Homo sapiens: one gene and its partners. The protein of the gene in region 1 interacts with the protein of each later gene in a pairwise test. Each region holds a gene or a part of one and is shown on either strand. Other genes may lie near its edges. The genes, in order: FSD2, ZC2HC1C, CCDC146 and FAM161A.

Region 1 (7,027 bases):
AATAATAATAATAATAATAATAATAATAATAATAATAATAAAACTCTTGGCCGGGCATGGTGGCTCACGCCTGTAATCCCAGCACTTCGGGAGGCCAAGGTGGGCGGATCACGAGTTCAGGAGATCAAGACCATCCTGGCTAACACAGTGAAACCCCGTCTCTACTAAAAATACAAAAAAAAAAATTAGCTGGGCTTGGTGGCGAGCGCCTGTAGTCCCAGCTACTAGGGAGGCTGAGGCAGGAGAATGGCGTGAACCCAGGAGGCAGAGCTGGCGGTGAGCCGAGATCGCGCCACTGCACTCCAGCCTGGGCAACAGAGTGAGACTCCGTCTCAAAAAAACCAAACCAAAACAAAACAAAACAACAACAACAAAAAACTGTTAGAGCACGGTTTTTGCTCAGCTTAGCTCCAGGATGAGGGAACAGGTATCTGGGTGACCAGAACAGAGGAACAAAGACTGGTGCTGCCTCTGCGCTGGGGGAGGGAGAGAGTCTGCGCTGTGAGTCCGCCTGGCCACTCACGTGGAAGCCATGCAGAGAGATTGGGCCACAGCCTCCCCATCACGATCATCCAGTGGAATCAAATGGATGCTGGCCATAAAAGTCGATTCCAATGCCTCCAGGAGGAAAGAGGACAACCTAGCTTACCTCAACCATAACTGTCGTTTCCGTTTATAATTCCATCTCTTTCCATTATGTTCATTATTTCATTTTGTTTCATTACTGACCTTTATGAAATCCACCTTCTCCTCGTGACACATCTCCTCTATTGTTTCCATCAGTTCTTTGCAAGTATCTAGGTTTTCTCCACAGCTGACCAGTTGTCCATATAAGGCTTCCAGCTTCTCTTTCTTTTTCTCCCCTAGAGCTTGTATTTTTTCCTCATATTTTTGAGCAAGTGTTTCCAAGATCTCGTTGTAATGTGACTCAAAGTTTTGTTCTTGTTTTCCAAAATTCTCCTGCAAGACAGTTGATCTCAGTCATCATTTCAGCGCATGTAGTGTGTTGATTAGAGTCTTTTGTTTTTTGTTTTTTTGTTTGTTTGTTTTTGAGACACAGTCTTGCAGTGTTGCCCAGGCTGGAGTACAGTAGTGTGATCTTGGCTCATTGCAACCTCTGCCCCCCAGGTTAAAGTGATTCTCCTGCTTCAGGCTCCTGAGTAGCTGGGATTACAGGTGTGCATCACCATGCCCGGCTAATTTTTGTATTTTTAGTAGAGATGGGGTTTCATCATATTGGCCAGGTTGGTCTTGAACTCCTGACCTCAAGTGATCCGCCTGCCTCAGCCTCCCAAAGTGTTGGGATTACAGGCAAGAGCCACCACGCCCAGCCTGATTAGAGTCATTAGAGAAATGAAAATATGTGCCTATCAGAACTATTTTAGTTCCTCTACTTTGTCCTCTCATCTCTTGTTGGGAGTTGGAATGGAAACTGGAGGTGCTGGAACATAGGTGTCTCCGGCCTAGACTCCAGGAATAATCTAAACAAAAGCACTGCTTTCTCTCCTGGCAGCATTTTGCAATCCAGTTCCAGTTTCAACTACCTTCTATCACCATGACAAGTGACCAGGGAGATTATCAGTGATGATTCTGCCCGATATTGGACCTTAATGTGGAAATATTTTCCCTGAGAGATTCCCATCTATCATTCTCTCCTGAGCTCTTAACATCTCATGAGGCTCCTCTTCACTCCCTGGTGCTTGGATCATACAAATATCAAGATTAAATCAACTAGGATCATATCAACTAGGGGAGAAATGAAGGCAAAGGAGGAACAAGGGTTGTGGTCTGGCGGCACTGCTTACAGATGAGAAGATGCAAGAGGGCAGAGGGAGGGTTCTGACAATATTAATCCAGGAGCACAGTAGATGAGAAATATTAATATTAATAGAGTATATATTGCTTATATTGTCCCCAGAGCTCTGCAAGCTCTGATGGATGTCATCCTCATCAGATGATGGGGACATTTCCAAGGAAGAGGATCTTATCAATCATTCAGGGAGTAATTACTGAACACCTGCTATGTGCACAGGACTTGCTCAGAATGGTGGAAGAGAGAGAAAGGCAATAGATGAACTTCCCAGTGTTGAGTATGAAAGGATGGCCACTGAGGATGAAGGGACTTTGATCTGAGAGTAAGCTGGCAGAGCAGCATGTAAGAAGTTTTTTATTTTATTTTATTTTATTTTATTTTTTTTTTATGGAGCCTCATTTTGCCACCCAGGTTGGAGTGCAGTGGAGCGATCTCAGCTCACTGCAACCTCTGACTCCTGGGTTCAAGTGATTCTCCTGTCTCAGCCTCCCAAGTAGCTGGGATTACAGGCACCCACCACCAAGCCCAACTAATTTTTTTTGTATTTTTAATAGAGATGGGGTTTCACCATCTTGGCTAGGCTGGTCTCGAACTCCTGACCTCAAGTGATCTGCCACCTTGGCCTCCCAAAGTGCTGAAATTACAGGCGTCAGCCACTGTGCCCGGCCAATGTAAGAAGTTTTGTCTTCGATGTTGTACACTTACCCCCTTCTACCACTACCCTATGCTTGGCAGTGGAAGGGTTTGCCACTTCTCTGTATCTTCCATGGGGGATTAGTGCAATAGCTCTCCTCCCTTGTAAGATTGGGGCTGGAAAAGGTCTACCTTCATGGGAAATGGGCCTGGGGCTTCGTTGATTCATATAAGATCCTCCTGTTGGTACCATCCGAAGCTGCATTAATAGAAGTAGAGCATCCGCATGAAGAGAAGAGAGAGGGCAAGTCCTAAGCTCCTCAGTCCTGGTTGACCTCATCTGGAAGGTTGGGTTGAGCTCTGGCATCATAGTGGTTACCATGTATCTACTAGGGCACACACAGGGGACTGTGGCATGTTTGGTGACAGGCATGGAAACTTATTAATCTTATGAGAAATAGATATCAGCTGAGGAAAAGAACACTTACCAAAAACGGGATGGGTATCCTGTAATACCTTGTCAAGGCTGAACCGTGAAAGAGGAGCTAGTCTTATTCTGTGTAGCTCTAGGGGCCAATATGACTAGTGGACAAAAGTTACAGAGCCACACCACACCTTCTATCTCAGTCGTCTTGGCATCTGGATCAAGGCTCACATTCTTACCCATGTCAAGATTGGGAGGGAGAGGGGCTGTCAAAGAATAGAAACTCCTTTCCAATCCTAGAATTCTAAGCTTTTACTGATCTCTCAGAAAAGTCTGGAAATTGCTAACTAGACAAAGGCAATACATTATTTATTTATTTATTTATTTATTTATTTATTTATTTATTTGAGATGGAGTCTCGCTGTGTTGCCCAGGTTGGAGTGCAGTGGTGTGATCTCGGCTCACTGCAACCTCTGCCTCCCGGGTTCCAGCAATTCTCCTGCCTCAGCCTCCCAAGTAGCTGGGACTACAGGCACATGGCACCACACCCAGCTAATTTTTTATTAGTAGTAGAAATGGGATTTCACCATGTTGGCCAGTCTGGTCTCGAACTCCTAACCTCAGGTGATCCACCCGCCTTGGCCTCCCAAAGTGCTGGGATTACAGGCGTTAGCCACCGTGCCCAGCCATAAATTTATTTTTTAAATGCATGCAGAGCTAAAAATATTCCTTTGTTTGAGTAGCGATCATTGGCAGAAGTGGGTATTTTGCCTCTTAGAACAACAAAAAAGTGTTTGACAGTCTACACCTGACTTTATATAGTCAACATTATAGGTACCCCCAAAAGCCTAAAATTAACAACTCCCGAAACCAACGGAACAACATGGAACTCCACTGTTTCTGGTTTCTCCGCCAATGCACCAGATAGCAACCCGGGGATTCTCAGTAAGAACTTCTACCCCAAAAAAAGAGGTCCAAAACAAATAAACAAACCCAAAAAGACAAGGGCAAAAGAAAGGATGTCCCCTCTTCACCACCTGGGCTCAAATGAGGGAATTCACTGGATGATGCCACCGTGAAGTCATCTTTGTTAGAATAAGGGTCTATCAAGTTGAATGATGAAAACAGTATACATTAAAAAAAGAATTCGAATAAGGGTCTAAATCACATACAATTGGTGATTTGGGTAAAGGGGGATTAGGAGAAAATGAAGCCAGTGAAGGAGAGGGATTGTGATTGGGAAATTTCTACCTTATTTACTCATGCAACAAACATGTATAAAATGCCTGCTCTGAAACATACCATGTAGTAGGACTAGGGATATTGAGACAGACGACCCAGCTTTCACACCAAGAGCTTATAGTTCAGCAGGGAATGCTGACAGGTAATTGGTTCCATGACGTCCATGCCCAGGTGCTATGGGAGGTCAGTGAAAGAAGGGAGGAGAGAAGGGGGAGTGGTGACCCCTCACATTCTAAGAAAACAGATTCTCTAGCTCATACCAGAAACAGCTGCTTGACATAGCCATTGATGGAAGAAATGTGAGTCTGATGAGGTCTTCAAGTGTGCTCTTACCTCCACAGTGATGAAAACCTCCTCCAAATGATTTGCAAAGTTTTCCATCTCAATTATCTGCTTTTCCAATTTGTACATGTTTTTGTGAATTTCATCCTATCCAACAGAGGATCACAAAGAAGGTATTAATGTTACATCTTCTCTCACTCTTGTAGAAGGCGTTTTAGATTTATTCCCTGCGTATGTACTTGAGATACCAAAGCAATATCAAGACAGAGAAGAACCAAGGACACCTATTTACCTTGGCACTTTCCAGTGCTTCATTGAGTGGGATCACTTCATGCTCCTTATGTTCATCAAAAACCTTCTGAAAAGCTCTTATTGGAGTCTTACAAGTGACACAGAAGACATCAGCAGCTTCTTCTTCATCCTCTTCCTCGGGGATGACATAGCATTCATACTCCTCGCTGGCACGGCCGTGTGTGTACCTATAGGCTTCCCGCAAGTCCTGGCACTGGCCTGCTGAGCCCCACCCTCCGAAGCCCAGGTCCTCGGCCTCCGCTGCCTCTCCACTAAGTCTCCAGTCTCTCTGCTCCCTGGCTGGGTCTCTCCTCTTCATCATATAAGGAGGATATTCTGAAACCCCTGTTCTGGGTATGTTTTCATCAACAAACTCATCCCCTAATTCATGATCATCTTCAAGTCCATATAAGTGGACAAGTTCATCCACTTCCTCTTGAAGGTCTCTTTGAGCCTTACCATCCCCTGCTCCTCTTGACTCATTGGCCATTTCAGCTTGGACTACTTTCCTCATCCTAGTGTTCTCTTCTGGAAAGAGGTGCAGTCTGTCTTCAGAGTCATACAGGTCCATGTGGTAAAAGTGGAAATCCTTGGGAGTAGACCTGTCCAGCCCCAGTTCCTCCCCCGATTCCTCCTCCATTGTAACTCTGGAAGTCCTCAGAAGCACCTTTATATAAGAAAGATCCTTCCTGGACACTTAATAGTGAATATCTGGGCCCTGGAACACAAAAGGAGGAGGAAAATCATTTCTGGAGAAGGGCATTGCAGTAGATGATCATTAGATTGGGCTCTACTCATATAAAACTTTAAAAAAATTATCTGTGTAGTTCAGTCGTGGTTTCACTTTGAACCATCTTTAAAAAATTTGTTTTCTATGGGAGGATGGGCTTTCTAAGGTTAAAAGAGACAAAAGAAATTACAAAAGAAATGTCTAATAGATATGTCCAACAAAATACTTCCCTCATACATTAAAAAAAAAACTTAAAAGGCAAAATAATGGGAAGCATCTCAGGCAATTATTATTATTATTATTATTAATTTATTTTTGAGATGGAGTCTCACTCTGTCACCCAGGCTAGAGTGCAGTGGCATGATCTCGGCTGACTGCAGCCTTTGCCTCCAGGGTGCAAGCAATTCTTGTGCCTCCACCTCCCAACTAGCTGGGATTACAGGTATGTGCCACCACACCCAGCTTATTTTTGTATTTTTGGTAGAGACGGGTTTTCACTATGTTGGAACTCCTGACCTCAGGTGATTCACCCACCTCAGCCTCCCAAAGTGCTGGAATTACAGGCATGAACCACTGCGCCCAGTCTATTATTTTTAAATTGTATAAATTAATTGAAAAAGTGGCATCTCAATAGATGAATGTGCACAGACAATTCACAAAACAATTACTTTTGTATATGATAGCACCTGCACAAAAACATTTGAAAAAAACTGTACTTAAAAGTAACAGAACAGGCCTGGCGTGGTGGCTCATGCCCATAATCCCAGTACTTTGGGAGGCTGAGGCAGATGGATTGCTTGAGCTCAGGAGTTCGAGATCGTCCTGGGCAACATGGCAAGACCCTGTCTCTACCAAAAATACAAAAAAAAAAAAAAATGCCAGGCATAGTGGTGTGCACGTGTGGTCCCAGCTACTTGGGAGGCTGAGGTGGGAGGATCACTTGAGCCTTGAGGGGTGGTGGTTGCAGTGAGCCTAAATCACACCACTGCGCTCCAGCCTGGGTGACAGAGCAGGACCCTGTCTCAAAAAAAAAAAAAAAAAAAAAAAGTGACAGAACAAATAAGTAGATGCTGTTTTGCCTTTTCAGTTAGAAAATATTTAAAAATATCAAAAGTGATACCCGCAGCTGGATAAGGGGACAGTGAAGTGAGCACTCTCATATGCTGCCGGCTAGAATGTAAACTGGCCCCACTTTTCTGAAGAGCAAGCTTGGCAACCTGGGTCAGGAACCTTAAAGATGTTCACACTTTCAGCAGGGTGTGGTGACTCATGCCTGTAATCCCAGCACTTTGGGAGGGCAAGGCAGGAGGATTGCTTGAGGCCAGGAGTTTGAGACCAGCCTAGGCAACACAGTGAAACCCCATGTCTACAAAAAATTTAAGCATTTGCCAGGTGTGGTGGTGCATGCCTGTAGTCCCAGCTACTAGGGAGGCTGAGGCAGTGAGCCATGATTGCGCCAGTGTACTCCAGCCTGGGCGACAGAGCAAGACTCTGTCTAAAAAAAAAAAAAAAGTGTTCATACTCTCTAGCCTGTTCATACTCTCTCTAACCTAGTAATCCTCTTCTGGAACCTTGAGGAAAAATCCCAAATACAAGGAAAAAAATTATTTTA
Region 2 (7,027 bases), on another chromosome or scaffold:
AGATCATATTATGAATGCTAGGCCAGCGAAATAAAACATCTGTGGAGCAAAGCAATCCACATGTTGCCATTTTGTGACCTTGGCCACAGCTTACTCTTGCCATCTATTGCAATGTACTGGTTTACATTCCCACTTAAAGTGTACATTTCATTGAACTTGCCTAGGGAATGTACCTATTAGGTTAAATATCCATTATCTCTGTGTGAGGTTTCCTTAAGGGGCTAACCATAAAGCTTTATTATGTGATACCTCCTTTCCTTTGGAACAATTAAAAAGAGTGCAAAGAAATGTGTGCTCCTATTTAAATATATAGGATTTTTTCCCAGCCTGTGTCCTGCAGCTTCACCGCTAAAGCCTTAACTCACATTTCAAATTGGTCTGATCTGTTAGCCCAATTTTTTTTTCTTTTTTTTTTTTTTTTTTTTGAGATGGAGTCTCACTAGGTCACCAGGCTGGAGTGCAGTGGAAATGGAGCAAGAGTGAGTGGCCATTTGTTACTTAGTAAAATAGGATTTTGTTGTCTGTCTAGCCCTGTTGACTAGCTCAAATTGAGCAGTTTTTCTCCAGTATTTTAAACTAACAATTTGAGTAATACAGAACAGTAATCCTAAGATTTCTATCTGTTGTGCTAACTTCACTCCTATCTGAACTGATAATACTCTCGCAGACATTAACTTATCAGTTCTCTGATTTCACTAGTGTAGGACTCACTCATCTTCTTGTTTAATTTTAAATCTCCAGACCTCACTAATTGAAGGTCTAACTTGTGCTAGGCAATATTCTACACAGAGAAAATTAAAAAGATTTGATCCCTTTCCCTTCAAAGTTTACTCTCTGAAATAGAAGTTGACTATGCTATAATTGCCAAGGGCATGTGACACTGTGCAGTGTCCCAGCTTTGTTTTGTTTTGAGATGGGGTCTTGCTTTGTTGTCGAGGCCGCTCTTGAACTCCTGGCCTCAAGCAATCCTCCCACTTCAGCCTCCCAAAGTGCTGGAATTATAGGAATGAGCCACCATGACCAGCCTGTCTCAGCTTGCTTTGATGGTAGATTTTGCTGCCTCTAAACAGTCATTTAGCCAAACCGATTTGAAAGTAGAGTGCTACTAACAGCTAAAATGGAGGTTTCTTTCTTAACATATGAAACCCATTAGAAAAGAACAAGTAGAGAGAAGTATAATGTGTTTCCCCCCCAACACCCATCCCTACCCTGTAAAGTACATAAAGATCTTTCCTTTATTACACAGTACACCATAGGGAAGGTTTAGGAGACATTGGTGCCTTAACCTTACATACTTGTATTGGGTTTTGGCCAGGCTTATGCACCAGGGAGACCAAGGATAGATTTCCATTAATAATGCCTTATAGCAAAATTGTATTATCTTTTATAAGAGTTACTATCTGGGTGATCATGCCCCTCTGACACCAACACATCCTAATAACTCCAGCTTCTACAAAAGCAAGAGTTAACAGGAACTCTGAACATACATGCAGTGACAAGAAGGCAGAACCAGATGCAGGCACTTAACTAGCACAAACCACAAGTCAGGCATGCAAGAAAAGAGCTTTAATGGAGCCTGCTCATGACTCTTCAGTGTCTTCACCCATCAATTCTGAGGGCAATAACATAAAGCATACCAGCCCAAGGTTGTAATTTAGTGGGAAGCTGGGGCTTCCTTCTGCCTCCTGCTGCTTAGCAGTGGCTCTCTCCTCACAGATTTTAGCTCTGCAGGCAGATCTGGGAGCTGTTTGATTTCTTTCTGCTTTGCATCAAATTCTACTCCCATTTACTGCTGAAGAGAAGCAGAGCTTTCTGAACTATCCAAAAGTTTCCATTGTTGTCTGCTCAACTATAATGCTTCCTTAGAGGTGGAAGACAGTTCTTGATGGTCTTACACTTGGGAATGTGTTGCTCAGCCACCTTGGGAGCAAAGTGGTGGCTACACTGAGGACACTGAATGCAGTCTGGGTTTTCTGCAGGCAGGATGGGAGGCAAGTGTGAACAGTTTCCACCTTTGGCAGTTACCTGCTGGACCTCTCGAGCCTGGCGGAACGTATGGATAAAAGATTCATGCTTCTATCTCCAGTTGCTCTTCTGAGGAGGTTCAGCCTGTAATGTAAAAGGGAGACTGATCATTCAAGTTGGCACCTATCTCCTTCCTGAGTCTCTTGTAGAATAACAGTAAGAAAATGAAAAGGGTACTAATCTGCAAGGTCAAAGAGAACAGGAAAGGAGCAACAGCGGTAACTGACTTGCCAGCGTTGAGGCAAACCAAGGGCCTGCAAAGGAGGTACTGCTGAGAGGCAAGCCACTTTCCCAACAGAACCTGAGAGGTTCAGTGCTTGGAAGTACCCGATAGTGGAAAGTAAGGAGGTACAGGACTGAAAACAAGTAGGACCCCACGGCTCCTCCCACCTTATGCATCCAAGTGTTCAACACCCAAGCACACTCACAGAAGAGCAAGGATTTATTCTCTGGAGAAATTGAACCACACAGATTTCTGACTCAGGAAATCTAGACACGTGGAACTGGGTTAATCTTGGGGCTGAAAATGGGGATTAAGTACAAGTGTACATACCAAATTATCGAACTGTCAGCCTCCTTCCCCCACTCAGCCCCCAGAGTACCAAGCATATTGGCATCCTCATAGGAAAAAGAGGGGTACTCTGGATACACAGAACAGTCCAGAGAAAAGCCTTCAGATACTGACCTTGGGAAACGCTAATTAAAAGACTCACTATCTGGGAACCTTAATATGAAGATCCTTAGTCAATGAGCCCCACTTAAGCTTAAATATGAAAGGACAGCCAGGAATCATCAGATATTTGCTAAAAGCTCTAACAAGAAAAAGAGCCAAAAAGTCCACAAACAAAAACTTAGGAGGCAGCAACAAGGCAGGTGGCAGAAGAAAACTTTTTTTTAACATGAGACCATATCAACAAAATGAGTATTAGAAGAGATTGTGTCCATAAAACAAGAAGAGTATACTGTGAAAAAAAGACAACCAGAGAACCAGAAAGAACTATTGTAAATTAAAACTTTGATAGCTAAAAATAAAAATTATTTAAATAGAGGCCAGGTGTGATGGCTCACGCCTGTAATCCCAGCACTTTGGGAGGCCAACGTGGGGAGATCACAAGGTCAGGAAATCAAGACCATCCTGGCTAAGACGGTGAAATCCCATCTCTACTAAAAATACACAAAATTAGCTGGGCGTGGTGGCACACGCCTGTAGTCCCAGCTATTCAGGAGGCTGAGGCAGGAGAATTGCTTGAACCTAGGAGGCAGAGGTTGCAGTGAGCCAAGATCATGCCACTGCACTCCAGCCTGGGCGACAGAGCAAGACCCTGTCTCAAAAAATAAATAAATAAATAAATAGAAATGTTGTAAACTAATGTCAAGAAAATTTCTCAGAATGGGAAAAAAGATCAAGATGGAAAGTAAAAAGAAAAGATTAGAAAATTAGAAAGTTAATCCTGGAAGTCCAACATGTGACCAATAAGAGTTGCAGAAGGAACAGAGAAAGCACGAGGAGAAAATTATTGTTGTTTTGTTTTGTTTTGTTTTTGTTGTTGTTGTTATTTGAGATGGAGTCTTGCTTTGTCACCCAGGCTGGAGTGCAGTGGCGCAATCTTGGTTGACTGCAACGTCAGCCTCCTAGATTCAAGCGATTCTCCTATCTCAGCCTCCCAAGTAGCTGAGACTACAGGCGTGCGCCACCACGCCCGGCTAATTTTTGTATTTTTAGTAGAGATGGGGTTTCACCATATTGGTCAGGCTGGTCTTGAACACATGAGATCAGGTGATCCACCTGCCTCAGCCTCCCAAAGTACTGGGATTATAGGCGTGAGCCACAGCACCTGGTGAGGAGAAAATTATTAAGGAAATAATACAATTAACATTCCTAGAATTAAAGGTCACACATTTTGAGATTGAAATGGCTTACCAAGTATCTAGCACAATTATTGTAAAGTTTCAGAATTTCAAAATAAATAGAGAATCCCGTAGCCTTTTAAAAAAAAAGGTTTCTTGTAATGGAACAGGAATCAAAATGGCATTAGATTTCACAACAATACACTGGATGCTAAAAGCTAGTGGGAAATACTTTAAAAGTTCTAACAGATAATCATTTTCCTCCTAGAATTCTGTACCTAGCCAAATCATCAAATGGGAGCCTGTCATATAGATAGTGTCATTCATTCCAAGACAATATACCTGCTATGCACCCTTCTTAGTAAGCTTCAGCAAAGGAAGGAGTAATGCAAGAAAAAGGAAGACACAGGATGCTGGAAACAGAGGACCCAACAAAGAAGAGAAGCAAAGAGAAGTTCCAAGAGAATGAGTTTGCACCAGGCCTAGAGAATACCCAGTCCAGGTTGGAGCAGAAGGGATCAGAGTGGCTGAAGGGAGGTTTTCAGAATTAAAAAATCAAACTGATAGATTATGAGAGGTGTTTGAGCATTACAAAAACGTTAACAGATGTCTGATATCAGATGGATCGTTGCGGGGGAGAAAAAGACAGGTATGTAGAAAATGAAGGAAATGAAAACATACGTCCATTATTAATTTTAGGTACATGTGGGCAGAGACAGAATTTGTTCACTCATTAATGAACAAAATTTACTTGATCATTACAATGTGAAAGCTAACTACTTTTAACCAAAAATTGTGATTCGACTACAGTGGAAGGATAAGAGAAAGAGAACAGTAGGAGAGAGGGAATATGAAAGAGAACTTCACTCCCAGCTTCCATAAGAAGTTACCAGGTAGAACAGGCACCGTGGCTCACGCCTGTAATCCCAGCACTCTGGGAGGCCGAGGTGGGCAGATGACTTGAGGTTAGGAGTTCAGGACCAACTTGGCCAACTTGGTGAAACCCTGTCTTAACTAAAAATACAAAAATTAGCCGGGCGTGGTGGCACTCGCCTGTAAGCCCAGCTACTCAGGAGGCTGAGGCACAATAATTGCTTGAACACGGGAGGTGAAGGTTGCAGTAAGCCAAGATCAAGCCACTGCACTCCAGCCTGGGCGACAGAGACTCCGTCTCAAAAAAAACAAAACAAAACAAAAAAAAACAGGTAATGTAGAAAATTGATAAATCAAGAAAATAAGCATATTATTTGGAAATATGGAAAGGCAGACCAGAAGAACCATCTAACAGAACTGAAGGCTGCCTCCGGGGGCTGAATTAGGGGTTCCATTATAGGTCATTCAGTACTACATGTTTTTTAAATGCATGCAAACACTATTAAATTTTTTAAAGAGAAAAAAGACAACTAGCTCTTGGTGATCTGGCATTGTTAATGATGAATAATAGGAAGAGATACTATCAAAGGAAAAGAAAGGATCCTTCCAGAAAGTCTCTTGCCAAAACAGACAAGAAGGCAAGAGAGTATTAGCGATGGTATCCAGGAACCTTTAAAAGAATTCGAAGACCAGGCACGGTGGCTCATGCATGTAATCCCAACATTTTGGGAGGCTGAGGCGTGTGGATCACAAGGTCAGGAGTTCAAGACCAGCCTGGGCAAGATGGTGAAACCCCGTCTCTACTAAACATACAAAAATTAGCTGGGTGTGGTGGCGGGCACCTGTAATCCCAGCTACTCAGGAGACTGAGGCAGAGAATTGCTTGAACCCGGTAGGTGGAGGCTGCAGTGAGCCAAGATCGCTGCAGTGAGCCGAGATCGCGTCACTGCACTCCAGCCTGGGCAACAGGGCGAGACTCGGTCTCAAAAAAAGAATTTGATCAGGGGAAAGTTCCTCTCAAAGAATTTGATCAGGGGAAAGTTCCTCAAGTATATGAGATCCTTTAGTAATTTACTTCTTATACTCTAATTCCTATAATTTTATTCCTCATTGTACTGAAATTCTATTCAGTTAACACTTATTAAGCACAAAGCACAAAATATGTTCCCTGTCCTCAAAAATGCTTACAGTCCAGGAGAGAGACAGGGTGTACGTCTGCTGGGAGTTACGTGAAGATTAAAGGATACCAGGAAAATCACCTGTTCTTGAGTACTCTAGAGGAATGACAGGAAGGTACAACCACTCAGCTTCCAAAGGCACAGCACTGTGGAATAAGATTTGAGACATTACCAGGGTGGTGCAGGTGCATCTTAGTCTAGGTCCCTTCTGTCTTGGTGTCCTCAATGTCACACATTCCCACAAACTAGTTGCCATAAAGCTGGAGCATCTGATCTCAGGAACCTAATTATTTTGCTTCACCGTAACTGTATTTACGAATTTAAGAAACACAAGATTCTTTTAGGCTCTGGCCAAAAATAAATCGCTACAGTGGGACATAGAGTGAATTCCCAGTGGATTACTGGGTTGAACTGAAAGAAAACAGGAAAAAACAGTAAGTGGTGATCATATTATTATCTGCAAGAGCAAAATGCTGATTTCTTCTTTGGAAACTAGATTTCAGGGAGATGATCTCTGAACATGGATGGGACTTCCTTGTGATTTCTCCAAACTACTAAAAGAAAGAACTCTAATTGTAAACAATTTCTTCTAACAACCATCATATAAATGTGAGTTTTTAAAGGCTCCAGCAAATACACAGAAACTGTAAAGTGCCAATGGACAAGAGGTGCCAGCACAGCGGAGGGAGGGTTGGGAAGAAATGAAAACAGAATGACACTCTCTTATTCTTCTGGAATATTAGAACTAGATGGGGCCTCTGAGATCATATGATCTACGCTTTCCCAAACTTCAATCATCTGCACTTTCACTTCATCCTTACAACTAATTAATATTTTTCTGTAAATTCATGATCCCTGGAAATCAGGGGCTTAATATATTGTTATATTTTCCTAATATAACACTAAACGACGAATCAATTTTTCTAATACAACACTAAACACTAAAACTACTAAAATAAAGTTTGTCAGCATGCCACACCTTGAGAAATAACCATTTTATAAACCAAGTGGCACAACCTTGACATGTCATTCATTTATGAGACAATCTTCTCCAGATATGTCCAAATGTGCCTATGAAGTTCACCTAAATTTATCATGTAAGT
Region 3 (7,633 bases), on another chromosome or scaffold:
ATTCGTTGACATTTATATCTAGATGGTAAGAAATCTTCTGCCCATCTGATTATTTGAGTCAGTTTTAGGAAACAATATATGCTAAGAAATGCTTTAAAATTGTTTTCTTATAAATGTAATATATTTTCACTATTGATAACACACAAAAAATTGCAGTAACCACTCATCATATCACTGCTTAAAGATAACAACTGTTATCAAGTGGTATATATCCCTCTGGAATTGTTTCTGTAAAGTATAATTTTATGTTAAATTTATTATTATTATTACACAATTGAGATCATACTATACGTGCAATTTTGTATATATTCTTTTCACTTTATATATGGACTATTTCCCATATCAAGATATGTTTAAATTGTTGCATAATATATCAGCTATATACTAATTTATGTAATACTGTCTTATTTGGGAGCATTTAACATTTTTTTATTGAGACAGAGTTTCACTCTTGCCGCCCAGGCTGGAGTGCAGTGGTGTGATCTCGGCTCACTGCAACCTCTACCTCCTGTGTTTAAGTGATTCTCCTGTCTCAGCCTCCTGAGTAGCTGGGATTACAGGTGTCCATCACTACGCCAAGCTAATTTTTTTAATTTTTAGTAGAGATGGAGTTTCACCATGTTGGCCAGGCTGGTCCTGAACTCCTGACCTCAGGTGATCCACCTGTCTCAGCCTCCCAAAGTGCTGAAATTACAGGCATGAGCCACTGCACCTGGCCAGGGAGCATTTAAATTGATGCAATTATTTTCTCTTACAAGTAACCCTATAAAACATAATTCCTTGAGCATCCCTAATTTTATGCTTACATCCCCAAAAGCACAATTTCTGAGTCATAGAAAAAGCTTTTCATTCTTATTGCTGAATTGAACTCTAAAAATTTTGTGCTAACTTAACACTCCTACCAGAAGTATATGTTCATGACCACAGAAATAGCTTTTTTAAACTAAGATGTGAAAATATCTTAGAAACAAACTCTAAATAAGGAGAAAAAAGTTGTATATAATTTTCTACTTATGAGGTGAATAATTTCATTTTTTCTTCAAAGGTGTCAGGAAAATGGACGTTTTGGTAGAGTGATAAAAGGGCCAGACCTTCTAATTGCTTAATCTTAATGTTTCTGAATCTGTTTCCCCATCTATAGTGTGAGGAGAATAATTTCCCTCCTAATTAGTGAGGATACAGTGAGATGACGCATGTGAACATGGTTTGACAATTATAATGTCATATGGATGGAAGATACAACTTTTATTAATCATTGTTGATATGTGGACAGATTTGATACTCATTATACTGTTTTTAAGTGTCTATAACTTTAACTATTTTATACCAATCTTAATATTAATAATTTTCTCCATTTTCAACCTTGTATGATCAGCAAAGTAAATTTTCAGTCAATTCTATTTGGTTTTTGTTTGAAAAAGTAAAATAATGATTATGCAACATAGAAAATTATAGTTCAGTTGCCAATTCCATTAACTTAGTTTGTCTCAGAAACGGAAAAATTACCATAGACACAGAATTAACTATTAAGAATTAATATTTAATCTAAAAATGTCTAGTGTTTCTACAGAAAATTTGAGTACATTCTCAACTTCCTTAAACCAGTGCCTTTTTCAAATTTCTTTTCAAAGTTACACCTGTCAATTTTCATAAAAAATAGTTTGAAGATTATTCTGAATAATTATAACCAATGAAACACAAAGACAAGAAAAGAACTATTGCAGTGGGCCCTTGCTGAACCTGAGCTAGCACCTATAATGAGTGAGTCTTCACCGAAAGAAGAATAAGGAGGGAGCAAGGACTAGAAGGACAGAAAAGAGGCAATGATAACTTAAGAGAACACTGAATTTTTAAAAATTTTAAAAAGGTAGTGGCTAGCAGAGAACCTGAGACTTGTACCCATGAGAACTTTAGCCCAGTCTATCTATCACGATAGCCCCAAGAATTCTGGTCATTGTACTTGGGTAAGGGCTTCAATTTTTTAAGGCACTTGCATTTTATGAAATGTTAGTGTTTGCAGGTGTCTTGGCTAAATAATTTAGGGAATACATTTTAGGAGGAAGTAGGGGCACAGAGGGGGAGAGAGAAACCAGGCAGGAAAGAAGAAAAAAAGAAGAAAATAAATCTTTCTGTTCCCATTATTTTACTGCCCATAGAATTATAAAAGGTAAACACACACACACACACACACACACACACACACACACACACACACACACACACACCTTATAGGGTCATTTAGAACCATCTTTCTTCATTTTAAAACTAAAGAAACAGGTCTAGGTGACACAGATGAAGCAGTGGCAGAGCCAGGAAAATAATCTGACCCTTGTCCCTGCTCTTTCCACCGCACCATGGTGACTCTCTTTTTTGTGTCTTTTTTTTTTTCACTCTAAAACTGATGATCATTTGTAGTCAAAGAGATCAATGCTATTCTCAAAACAAGTTCTGATCTCTCATAATTTTCTTGGTAACTCAGAATCAATGTTAAGTACGTTGAAATAAAAATACAGTACTTTACACGGTAATTTGGTAGACTGTGCACCACGGTCCCATCCATTTTCTTACTTGATCCTCACAAAAACCCTTTGAGGCAAGGCAAGGAAGGTATTATCATCTACATTTTTAAAGTGAGCAAATTAAAACCCAAAGTAAGGTCACTTAGGGTCAGGACGGAGCAAGTACTCTATTCCTATATTTGGAATATAGGAGGGAATACACTTCCAAAGAGGCAATTCCCTCAAAAAGCACCAATCTTGCTCTTTACTCTCTTACCAAGGCATTCTCCATGCCCTGGAGATGCCCGCACTAGGTTAGTGAAGCTTGGATCTTGACATCCACATAGGTTACTCCTAGTTTGCACCTAGTTGTCAACTTAAAAAGCGCAGTTTCTTACCCCTTCCCTTGGTCCTGATCCTTATTTAGGCTCCTATTTTTCTCTTTGGGATTTGGCCTCCTGGGTCTCACTCCAAAGCTCCACCCTCTCCAAACAAGAAGTCGCGTCCTTGGTATCCAAGGTGACCATGCAGCTTTACCCTCGTTGCCCCCTTCCGTGCTTCCCATTGGCCAGTGGCCTCCCATGTACCGCCCCTCCAATAGCCAATGGTCTTGAAACAAAGGGCGCCCGCCTTTCCAGCGATTCTAACACCTGCCCTCTTACCCGTGCTCCCCTGCGCATTGCCTCCTGGGATATGTGGTTTCTAAGAGGCGGAGCTCTGCGACTTTCCACCGCTTTAGAACTACGTATCCCGTCGGCCTTAGCGAAAGGGGGTGGACTTAGGCAAGGGGTCCAGGTCAGAGTTCAGAGCTTTCAAATCCCAACTTGCCCCTGGGGATTACGCAGCTGATGTTTACATCGCCTAGTCAAGCCAACCGGCTCGCTCTTGTTTCAGCAAACCCTGACTTACGTCTCCTATTTGACTTGAGGCGGCACAGTGGCCAAGTCGATTGGCCGTGGCAAGTGACCCTCCCTGTGGCTGAAGTGTTCTGAGGACTGGCGAGAGAGGCGCGCCATGCTTGCCCCCTGTTCAGGTTGGGAGCTTGGCTGCTTCCGTCTCTGTCTCCGTCAGGTCCGACTGTGGGCTGGCGCTGGGCGCTGGTCTTGCTGGGCTTGCCAAGCCAGGCCGTACAGCTCAGGTAGGGGCGAGCGCTGGCCCGGATCGGAGACTGAGGTCCCTCCGCCTGGCCCGGCGCGCCGAACTCTGAAGGAGTGGACACTGCAGGTGAGCCCGTTCGGTCGGCTGCGGGCGCGGCTCCCGTGCCACCTGGCCGTGAGGCCCCTGGACCCCCTCACCTACCCGGATGGCGACCGCGTGCTGGTCGCGGTGTGCGGCGTGGAGGGCGGCGTGCGGGGCCTGGACGGCCTGCAGGTGAAGTACGACGAGGATCTGGAGGAGATGGCCATTGTGTCTGATACTATCCACCCCCAGGCGTCCGTGGAGGTGAACGCGCCCCTGAAGTTTGGCAAGTGAAGTGAAGTGAAAACGGGTTTGGGTCCCAGGGAACGCACAGTGAACTTAATAAATTTGGTCGACGTGCACTTTTAATTGGTCCTGGCTTTCTAAACCTAATTTACAGTTGGCCCCTTCGGAAATGCAACTTTTCCTCTGTTCTATTCTTGAGTATCCGAGTAGTATTTAAAAAATTAGGTTCCCAATTATAGAAATTTTATACATCGAATGGAAACACGATTTGGTATAATCCAGGTCAAATTCTATTTCTGGAGCCGCTTGTGTTCTTCTTTATCCCGTTGTCATTAGCAAACTGGCTTATTTTTCAAGGTTGAAGTTTCTTGACAATTCATTCAATGGTATGGCAGTCCATCTACATTTCCCCTTGCTCACAGCCTGGGGGTGTGTCCCAAAACAGCCCTGTCAATAGGATGTTCCAGGTACCACCTGGTTTGAGTATTTGGTTTTAGACGGGCGCCCAGCTTCTTACTGTTATGTTTCCATTCTTTTTGGCCTAAGTTTTCCATGAGTAGCAAGCTTTGAAGAAAAACACATGGTAAGCCTGCCTAGGAAGCTTCAATAATAATGCCTGCAAGATACCTTTCTTAGGTTTTCCTAAATGGCAAGCCACTGTGTACACACACTTTTCTAGGAAGGGCTCCCCAGACTGTCATTCTTCCTGGGACTGAAGGAAGATATTGATGATGATGATGATGGTAATAATAATAGCATTTAGCATTTTTAAGATCATCTTTTATAATGCTTACAGTTGCCCAAATAGTAGATGCCGTAGTCCTCCCTTATCCACCGTTTGGCTGTCTGAGTTTGTTACCTGCCTCAACTGTTGTAGGAAAATATTAAGATATTTTGACAGATCACAGTAATATAACTTTTATTACAGTATATTGTTATAATTGCTGTATTTATTATTATTGTTGTTCATCTCTTACTATGCCTAGTTTATAAATTAAACTTGATCATTGATATGTATACAGGAAAAAACATAGAATATATAGGATTTGGTACTATTTGTGGTTTCAGGAATCAAGTCGGGGGGGCGGGTCTTGCCTACTTTAAGAGAAATCATCAATATTTATGTTAATTCCAAATTAAATATCAGCGTTTTTAATTTTTAAAATTTGTATACAGCGATGCCTGCAGTTACATCTTAAATAGACAGCCAAGGATGGCATTTGTAATTCCTTATTTTCCAAACTTGCTTCATGTACCACTGCCATTTGTCCACAATCTTGTGGGGTTTTTTGTTTGTTTGTTTTGGTTTTTTTTGAGACTGCATCTCACTCACTCTGCCATGCAGGCTGGAGTACAGGTGCACAATCATGGCCCACTGCAGTCTTGACTTCACGGTTTTAAGCAATCTTCTCGCCTCCGCCTCCTGAGTAGCTGGGACTACAGGTGCATGCTACCATGCCTGGCTAATGTTTTTGTTTTTTTGTAGAAAGGGAGTTTTGCCACATTGTCCAGGCTGGTCTTGAACTCCTGGGCTTCAAGCAATCCTCCTTCCTCGGCCTCCCAAAGTGCTGGTATTACAGGCATGAGCCACGGCTCATGGCCTAATCTTGTAGTTTTAATAGTATATATTAGGTTTTTCAAAGTTGTTCCCATTTTTAAAAAATTACTTCAAATACCTTGTGATATAGTTGCATGGTAATATTTTCATTTTTTAAGTATGAAAGGTTAGACATAGGATTTGAAAACCTAAGTCATGATCATATATACTGGGGAAGAGGCTTCTACAGTCTTTCACAGGAGTACTTAACAGAATCGTAGTCTCCTTTACTTCCCATCTATGTTAGTTCTCTTTAGGTGATTTAGGCCAGTAGAAATAACTGCTCTGTTTCTAAAAACGGGCAGAAAGGCTATTGTATTTGGTCCCGTTGCCGTGGTAGAAGACCCCTTACCTTTACAGTATGCACTTTCCAGGATTCAGCAATATTATGGACATAACTGAGGAGTTGGGTTTCTAGGTTAAAATGCTTTGGAGCTTATAAACTGCAGTACTAACTTGCTTTTTTCTTTTTTTACTTCTAGGTTTAGATATCAAGTCATCAGGGTCTGGCTGTGTAGAAGTTCAAAGTATTGAGGGTGATAATTGCAAAATTGAAACAGAGCATGGGACTAGCATCTTGCAGTCTGTTAAGGTATAGCATTTTTCTAATTTTATTTCACTATTATTTTTTTAAAAGCCTTAAGCTATGAATCGTACTATCAAACTCAAGAGATTCTTCTGTTTTTCAGAACATTGTCATTTATTCATCTCTCAGAAAGTCCTTGGCAAACATTTTGCCTTGAAATCAGTTCTAGTAAAGTACAGAGGTTATAGCAGTTTTGAGGTTTTGCCTCAAATTTCTTTTTGATTTAATTTCAAAGTGTACAGTGAAACTAATAGTATTTTCCTAGTATTCTGAAATCTTACTAAAGAAATTTTAGTTTCCACAAATGATTTTCTTCCATTTTATTAAAGAGTAAGGAAGAATCTTTGTGCACTATAAATGTGCTTAAATATTAGATGACTTTAATCACATTTTTAATGTACCAGGTAGCTAGCTCATTACTTAAGGATTAAGTAGTTATTTGTGCAAAGTAACATATGATTCATCTTGTTTTGTAATTAAATTTTTTTTTTTTTTTGAGACGGAGTCTTACTCTGTCACCAGGCTGGAGTGCAGTGGTGCAATCTCAGCTCACTGCAACCTCTGACTCCCTGGTACAAGCAATTCTCCTGCCTCAGCCTCCCAAGTAGCTGGGATTACAGGCATGCACCACCACACTCAGTTAATGTTTGTATATTTAGTAGAGACAGGGTTTCACCATGTTGGCCAGGCTGGTCTCGATCTCCTGACCTCGTGATCCGCCTGCCTTGGCCTCCCAAAGTGCTAGGATTACAGGCATGAGCCACTGCGCCCGGCTGTAATTAATTTTTTTTTTTTTTAGTGTTTTCTTTGTAGAGACAGGGTCTCACTGTATTGCGCCAGGCTGGTCTTGAACTCATGGGCTCAAGTGATCCTCCTGCCTTGGGCTCATGAAGTGCTGGGATTACAGGTGTGAGTCACCATGACTGACCTATATTTAATTTTTTAAAGATTAGACTGGTGTTAGCTGTAAATAGTTTGAAATACCTCTCTGATAGGTGCTAGCTTATCGTTACTCTTAGTGCTTCTTGCATTTGCATAGTCAAAACTTGATACTTTTGTGAACTTTGAAAGCATGCAATTTTGTTGAAGTCAGTCATCTTTGCTTCATAATTGCAAAATATTTTCATTTTTAGATTTCTAAACACTAGTTAGAATAATTTGATGCATTTTTAATTTTTACATATTTTTTCTTTCATCCACCTTTATTTGCGTATCTGCCATCAGCATGTGTCCACATATGAATCATTTCAAATAAATTTTTGGCACAAATATCATAAAAGATTAACATTACCATCACAAGTCCTTCTAGCAAAATAAGTTGGTTCAGATTCTTGTTGTAAAAGATTGTATAATAAGGTCTTCATGTTGAATGACTAGGTGAGGATATCATAATTCTTTTTTGTCCTTAGAAATATTTTGTTCAGTCATTGATACTTAAGTTTCAGAAAACTAATCTAGACTTGTCCTCTGAAGACTCAAGAGTTTGAGATTTCCAATTTCACAATCAAAATTAGAATCTAGTATACT
Region 4 (7,027 bases), on another chromosome or scaffold:
GGCGTGAACCTGGGAGGCAGAGCTTGCAGTGAGCTGAGATCAGGCCACTGCACTCCAGCCTAGGCGACAGAGCGAGACTCTGTCTCCAAAAAAAAAAGCAGTCTTCAATAGAACTTACGTGCAGAAATTTGCTACCAACAACTCTATGAATCAGAGAACTGCTTTAACTATGTCAAACAATTCAATTAAGAGAATTCTCTGATATCTTCTGCTGTTTCTTTATGTGCTTCTCACCATAAACTTCTTATCTGCAGGATGACTACTTTGTGAATTTCCTCATTCATTAAATATTTGGGGGCCATCCTGCAATCAGCTAGCTGCTAAAATGTACGTCAGATTTTTTTTAAACTCTACCTTTGAGGCCAGGCACAGTGGCTCACACCTATAATCCCAGCACTTTGGGAGGCCGAGGCAGCCAGATCACTTGAGGTCAGGAGTTTGAGACCAGCCTGGCCAACATGGTGAAACCCCCTCTCTACTAAAAATACAAAAATTAGCCAGGCATGGTGGCAGGTACCTGTAGTCCCAGCTACTCGGGAGGCTGAAGCGGAAGAGTCACCTGAACCCAGGAGGTGGAGGTTGCAGTCAGCCAAGATCGTACCACAGCACTCCAGCTTGGGTGACAAAGCAAGACTCTGTCTCACTTAAAACAAACAAACAAACAAAAACTCTACCTTTGAGAAGTTTCCAGCTAGCTTAGGAAAGGACATGTATATAAATAATAGACAGCTGACTTAGAATGAGACAGAACACCTGATTCCTGCCCACAAGCTACTTCCAGCTAAGCGGAGAGACAGATGTATGTCACAATGTCAGACACTAAGAGACAGAGGCACAATTCACAGAGGTGAGCCAGACTGGAGACACATGGTTGGACGAGGACAAAGTTTGCCAGATCAGGGAGGCAGTGAAAAAGGAATAAATAAATCCGAGGCATAGTGCTAGAACATCCATCGCCAGGAAACATGTGGATAAATGTCTGGAGACCTGGTGAGAAGGCTGGGCTGGAGAGCAGATACAGGAGCCACCAATCCACACAGAAGTAGCAGGTGCAGCCTTGGTTATGGACGAGGCTGCCTGGAGGGAGTGTGAGCAACAAGACATGAGAGGACCTGAGAATGGAGATGTTGGAGAACACCAACATTTAAATAAGCAGCGGAAGGAGGACTAATAGGAGGTAGAGAGTGGCATGAGAGATACAAAGACCAACTGATACGGGTCTTTGGAGCCTCTGATTGAGTATTCTGACACCACATCTGTAATTTTTCTCCTAAACCATGAGAACACTCCAAACTAAAAGTTATTTAACTCTCACCCAATGCTTTCACCTTTATAGGGTCAAAAGGGGGCTGAAACCAGGTGACCAGTGACCAGGAGCCAGTGGTAGACAGGAAATGGAGGGAGCTTTTGTTTCGTTTGAGTTTGGAAGATAGGGGAAGACTTCCTGGAGGAGGTAATATTTGAGATGAGTCATAAAGAATGGAGGCCAGGTGTGGTAGCTCATGCCTGTAATCCCAGCACTTTGGGAGGCTGCAGTGGGAGGACTGCTTGAGGCCAGGAGTTCCAGACCAGCCTGGGCAACACGGCGAGACACCATCTCTACAAATTTTTTTTAAAAAATTAGCTGGATGTGGTGGCTGAGGTGGGAGGATCACTTGAGCCCAGGAGGTTGAGGCTGCAGTGAGCCGTGAGCGCGCCACTGCACTTGAGCCTGGGCGACAGAGTGAGACCTTGTATCAAGAAAAAAGAAGGCTGGGCGCGGTAGCTCACGCCTGTAATCCCAGCACTTTGGGAGGCTGAGGTGGGTGGATCACCTGAGCTCAGTAGTTCAAGACCAGCCTGGCCAACATGGTGAAACCCCTTCTCTACTAAAAATACAAAAATTAGCCAGGCATGGTGGCGTGTACCTGTAGTCCCAGCTACTCAGGGGACAGAGGCAGGAGAATCGCTTGAACCTGGGAGGCAGAGATTGCAGTAAGCTGAGATCGAGCCATTGCACTATAGCTTCGGCGATCAAGCAAGACTCTGTCTCAAAAAAAAAAAAAAAAAAAAAAAAGAATGGAGAAATCTATAGGATCACAGAGTGTTTATGGGAAAGAAGGGGAAAGTACCCTAGGCAAAGGAAATGGCGTTAGCAAATGCGCAGGCTGGGGTTGGGGAGGCTGTGCATAGCAGAGGGCAAGGTGCACATGGCTGCCGGATAAAAGGAGAGGAAAACCCATAAAGCAGTTTTGGGAAGTAAACCTAGAAAGGGAGGTTAGGGCAAGCAAGAAGGGGTTTCCATCTCCTGCCTACCACTGGCTCCTGATTACTGGTCACGTGGTTTCAGCCCCCTTATGACCCTTCAAAGATGAAAGGGTTGGGTGGGAGTTAAATAACTTTTAGTTTGGAGTGTTCTCACAGCTTAGGAGAAAGATTTCAGATGTGACGTCAGGATACTCATACAAGCCTGGGCTCCGCACTTAGCAATGTGATGTGGGCATGAACTTCTTGAACATCAGCTTTAAGATATGTAAAGTAGGTGTGCCAGGTGTTAAACTAGTGTCTCTCAGCTCCAATGCCACCCTTCTCGACTCTGCTTTGCAATGCCAGAGCTGGAACTCTGCAAACCACACTTCTGCTTTGCCAGTGCTCCTCATCAGACTCTGCTAAAAGTGGAGTTAGAGGGAGATACAAGGCTAGAGGAGAAAGATGGGACTTACTCCTTTCTGTTAGCCCTCTGACTGCTTCCTGTCGGCTTGTGTCAGTCTAGCAACGGTTATTCATCTGGGCAGCAGCAGTTCGTTTTAGTAGCAGTGTCTGAATCCAGTATGCAGTTTTCACTCGAAAAATCAACAGAATTGGCCAGGCACAGTGGTTCATGCCTGTAATCCCAGCACTTTGGGTCACTTGAGGTCAGGAATCCGAGACCAATCTGGCCAACATGGTGAAACCCCATCTCTACTAAAAACAAAACTTAGTCGGGTGTGGTGGTGCATGCCTATAATCCCAGCTACTCGGGAGGCTGAGGCAGGAGAATCGCTTGAATCCAGGAGGCAGAGGTTGCAGTGAACCAAGATCGCACCACTGCACTCTAGCCTGGGTGACAGAGTGAGGCTCCATCTCAAAAAAAAAGAAACAAAAATCCACAGAATTACTTCAAGGCCTTTGCACTTGCTGTTCCCTCTCCCTAGGATGCCTTTTCCTCCAGATATCCACATGACCCACTTGCTCACTCCTTCAGGTCTTTATGTAAATGTTGTCTTCTCAATAAGGTCTTCCCTGACTCTCCTATTTAAAATTACAACTTCTCCCAGGACTCACTGTCAGCCCCCTTGTCTGTCTTATTTTTCCCAGAAGTACTCATCACCATTGACGTCCTACATATCTGTACTTGATTGTGTATTATATGCCTGCCCCTACCAAAAAGTAAACATTACAAAGGTAAGAATTTGCCAGGCCTGATGGCTCAGGCCTGTAATCCCAGCACTTTGGGAGGCTGGGGCAGGTGGATTGCTTGAGCCCAGGAGTTTCAGACCAGCCTGGGTAACACGTCAAGGCCTCATCTCTACAAAAAATACAAAAAATTAGCTTGGTGAGGTAGTATGCACCTATAGTCCCAGCTAGTTGGGGGACTGAGGCGGAAGGATCACCTGAGCCCAGGAGGTTGGGGCTGCAGTGAGCTATGATGGAGGCACTGCACTCCAGCCTGGGTAACAGTGTGACCCTGTCTCAAAAAAACAAAACAAAACAAAAAGAAAGGCAAGGATTTGTCTGCTTTGTTTAATGTTGTGTCCCCAGTGTCTAGAAAAGTACCTGGCTAATGGCAGATGTTCAAGGAATATTTACTGAATGAATGAATGAATGTACAGAAAAAAAAAATTCCACCTTGGGAAGAGGGCAGTTACTCCCTCCCAAAAGAATGAACCATGCAAAGAAATGCTGGCTGCTCTAAAGAGCTATATTCCACCAAGTATTAAGAAAAAGGCCTATGTTCCAAAAACTATAATTAAAACAGGGAGGGTATTTCAAAGAACTGTTTTTAAGCAAAAGAATCTATGCGCTCTCATTCATTCTTTTAGAATATCTCTTAAAAATCATGTCTTATAGCAGTCATTTACACAAGAAGGATCAAATTTATTTGGACCTGGAAGAACCGTTTGAAAACCATATAGAAGAATGAGTAGCTTCTGAAAGATGCGGCAGGTCTGATAAATTATACTTATGTACTGATTTTGCACTGGATCCATTCTGTTTTCAGCTTAATACTGTTAACGCTAGCTGAAACTTTTCAGATAAACTGATCTCACAGTGTTTAACCTAAAACAGATGAATGGCTAGTAAATGACCTCCAATTCTAATTTAATCTTTAATTGTCTCCACTGAGAAAATATTTAGTATACAAAATAACCTAGGCCATAGACATTATTTTTCCAAGAGCCTAAAATAGCATCCTCTCCCTTTAATCGGCTTTTTGTGGAATGTTGTAAATGCAGCCACCAGATTAGAGGATAATCTTCCCTAGATTGGCTTGACCCATTTAGATAATGAATCCTTCCAGTACCTGTTGCTTTATTAGTAATCAGCACCTATGAAGAATTATTTGTGCTGCAGCCTATATAGTTTCATCTGCAACCTGTAATTTTTGAAAAAATTTTTTTCGCTGAATTTGTAAAGAATGAGAGAGATCTACATGTACTAACATGGGTAAACTCCCAATAAATAAGAAAAAAAAGCAAGTTGCAGAACTATCTCCCTCTCTCTGTCTATATATATATTTATATATATATATCTATATATATTTATATATATATTTATATATATATTTATATATATATTTATATATATATTTATATATATTTATATATATATTTATATATTTATATATATTTATATATATATATTTATATATATTTATATATATATTTATATATATATATATTTATATATTTATATATATTTATATATATATTTATATATTTATATATATTTATATATATATTTATATATTTATATATATTTATATATATATAAATATATATATTTATATATATATTTAAATATATATATTTATATATATATTTAAATATTTATATACTTATATATATTTATATATTTATTTATATATTTATATAGTATGTACTGTATATTAAAATATATGGAGGAGATAGAAAAACGGCCAGAGAATAGAATACATATCAATTTTGAAACAGTGGCTACCATTAGGGAGGGAGTAGGTATTCATATTTTCTCTTCTGGGGGAGAGTTGTTAAAAGGGCCTAAGCGTCATATGTAACATTTGATATTTTAAGAGAAGAATGTCACCTGGTATGGTGGCATATACTTCTAACCCGAGCACTATGGGAGGCCGAGGAGGGCGAATTGCTTGAGCCCAGGAGTTTGAGACCACCCTGGGCAACATAGTGAGACCTTTATTTTACAAAATAAAAATAAAAATAAAAAAATTAGGCCAGGATGGTGGCTCAGGCCTGTAATCACAGCACTTTGGGAGGTCAAGGCTGGCGAATCACTTGAGGTCAGGAGTTCAAGATCATCCTGGCCAACATGGTAAAACCCCGTCTCTACTAAAAATACAAAAATTAGCTAGGTGTGGTGGTGTGCACCTGTAGTCCTAGCTACTCAGGAGGCTGAGGCAGGAGAATCACTTGAACCCAGGAGGCACAGGTCTCATTGAGCCGAGATTGTGCCACTGTACTCTAGCCTGGTGACAGAGCGAGACTCCATCACAAAAAAAAAAAAAAAAAGAGAATGAAATCATGTCCTTCACAGCCACGTGGATGGAGCTGTAGGACATAATCTTAAACAAATTAACAGAAAACCAAATATCACATGTTCTCATAAGTGGCAGGTAAAATAATGAGTACACACGAACATAAACATGGAAACCACAGACACTGCGGGCTACCACCAGGTGGGGAGGGAGGGAGGGAGGGAGGGCGGCGTAGGTTGAAAAACTATCTATTGGGTACCATGCTCACTACCTGGATGCAATATACCCATGTAACAAACCTGCACATGCACCTCTGTATCTAAAATAACAGGTGAATTTAAAAATATAGGCCAGGCATGGTAGCTCATGCCTGTAATCCCAGTACTTTGGGAGGCTGAGGCGGGCGGATCACCTGAGGTCAGGAGTTGGAGACCAGCCTGACCAACATGGAGAAACCCCGTCTCTACTAAAAATACAAAATTAGCCGGGCGTGGTGGCACACGCCTGTAATCCCAGCTACTTGGGAGGCTGAGGCAGGAGAATCGCTTGAACCTGGGAGGTGGAGGTTGTGGTGAGCCAAGATCACGCCACTGCACTCCAGCCTGGGCAACAAGAGTAAAACTCCATCTCAAAAAAATATATGTGTGTGTGCGTTCGTGTGTATGTGTGTATATGTGTATGTATGTATGTATATCGACAGTGGAGCCAGGCACAGTGGCTCACGCCTATAATCCCAGCACTTTTGGGAGGCCAAGGCAGGTGGATCACTTGAGCCCAGGAGTTCGAGACCAGCCTGGGGAACATGGTGAAACTCTGTCTCTACAAAAAATATAAAAATTAGCTGGGCGTGGTGGCATGCACCTTTAGTTCCAGCTACTTGGGAGGCTGAGGTGAGGAGATTGATTGATCCTGGGAGGTTGAGACTGCAGTGACCTGTGACTGCACCAGTGCATTCCAGCCTGGACAAGAGAGTGAAACTCTGTCTCAAAAAATAATAAATAAAAAGTGGAGTCAGAAGAAAAACAATAGGTTCTCTCCTATTTATTTTTAATCATTATAGGCTGTTCATTTCTTTCCCAACATTTCCCATCTTATAGTTATGTGTCTGTTCATTTTTTGTTTTTTGAGATGGAGTTTCGCTCTTGTTGTCCAGGCTGGAATACAATGGCGTGATCTCGGCTCACTGCAACCTCCACCTCTCGGGTTCAAGCGATCCTCCTGCCTCAGCCTCCTGAGTAGCTGAGATTACAGGCATGTGCCACCACGCCCGGCTAATTTTGTATTTTTAGTAGAGATGGGGTTTCTCTATGTTGGTCA

Evidence for each region.
Region 2: the proteins of FSD2 (region 1) and ZC2HC1C interact in binary tests that used the Homo sapiens proteins (3 or more experiments, as listed by UniProt).
Region 3: the proteins of FSD2 (region 1) and CCDC146 interact in binary tests that used the Homo sapiens proteins (3 or more experiments, as listed by UniProt).
Region 4: the proteins of FSD2 (region 1) and FAM161A interact in binary tests that used the Homo sapiens proteins (3 or more experiments, as listed by UniProt).

The regions. Positions count from the first base shown.
Region 1 is NC_000015.10:82,782,066-82,789,092, forward strand, and holds part of FSD2 (fibronectin type III and SPRY domain-containing protein 2), read right to left. Parts: intron 5,404-7,027; 5' UTR 5,326-5,403; coding exon 4,687-5,325; intron 4,542-4,686; coding exon 4,446-4,541; intron 961-4,445; coding exon 730-960; intron 1-729.
Region 2 is NC_000014.9:75,072,614-75,079,640, reverse strand, and holds part of ZC2HC1C (zinc finger C2HC domain-containing protein 1C), read right to left. Parts: intron 2,110-7,027; coding exon 2,077-2,109; 3' UTR 1-2,076.
Region 3 is NC_000007.14:77,117,996-77,125,628, reverse strand, and holds the start of CCDC146 (coiled-coil domain-containing protein 146), read right to left. Parts: upstream 3,015-7,633; 5' UTR 2,897-3,014; intron 1-2,896. UniProt on the Homo sapiens protein: Essential for sperm flagellum biogenesis and male fertility.
Region 4 is NC_000002.12:61,844,057-61,851,083, forward strand, and holds part of FAM161A (protein FAM161A), read right to left. Parts: intron 1-7,027. UniProt on the Homo sapiens protein: Involved in ciliogenesis.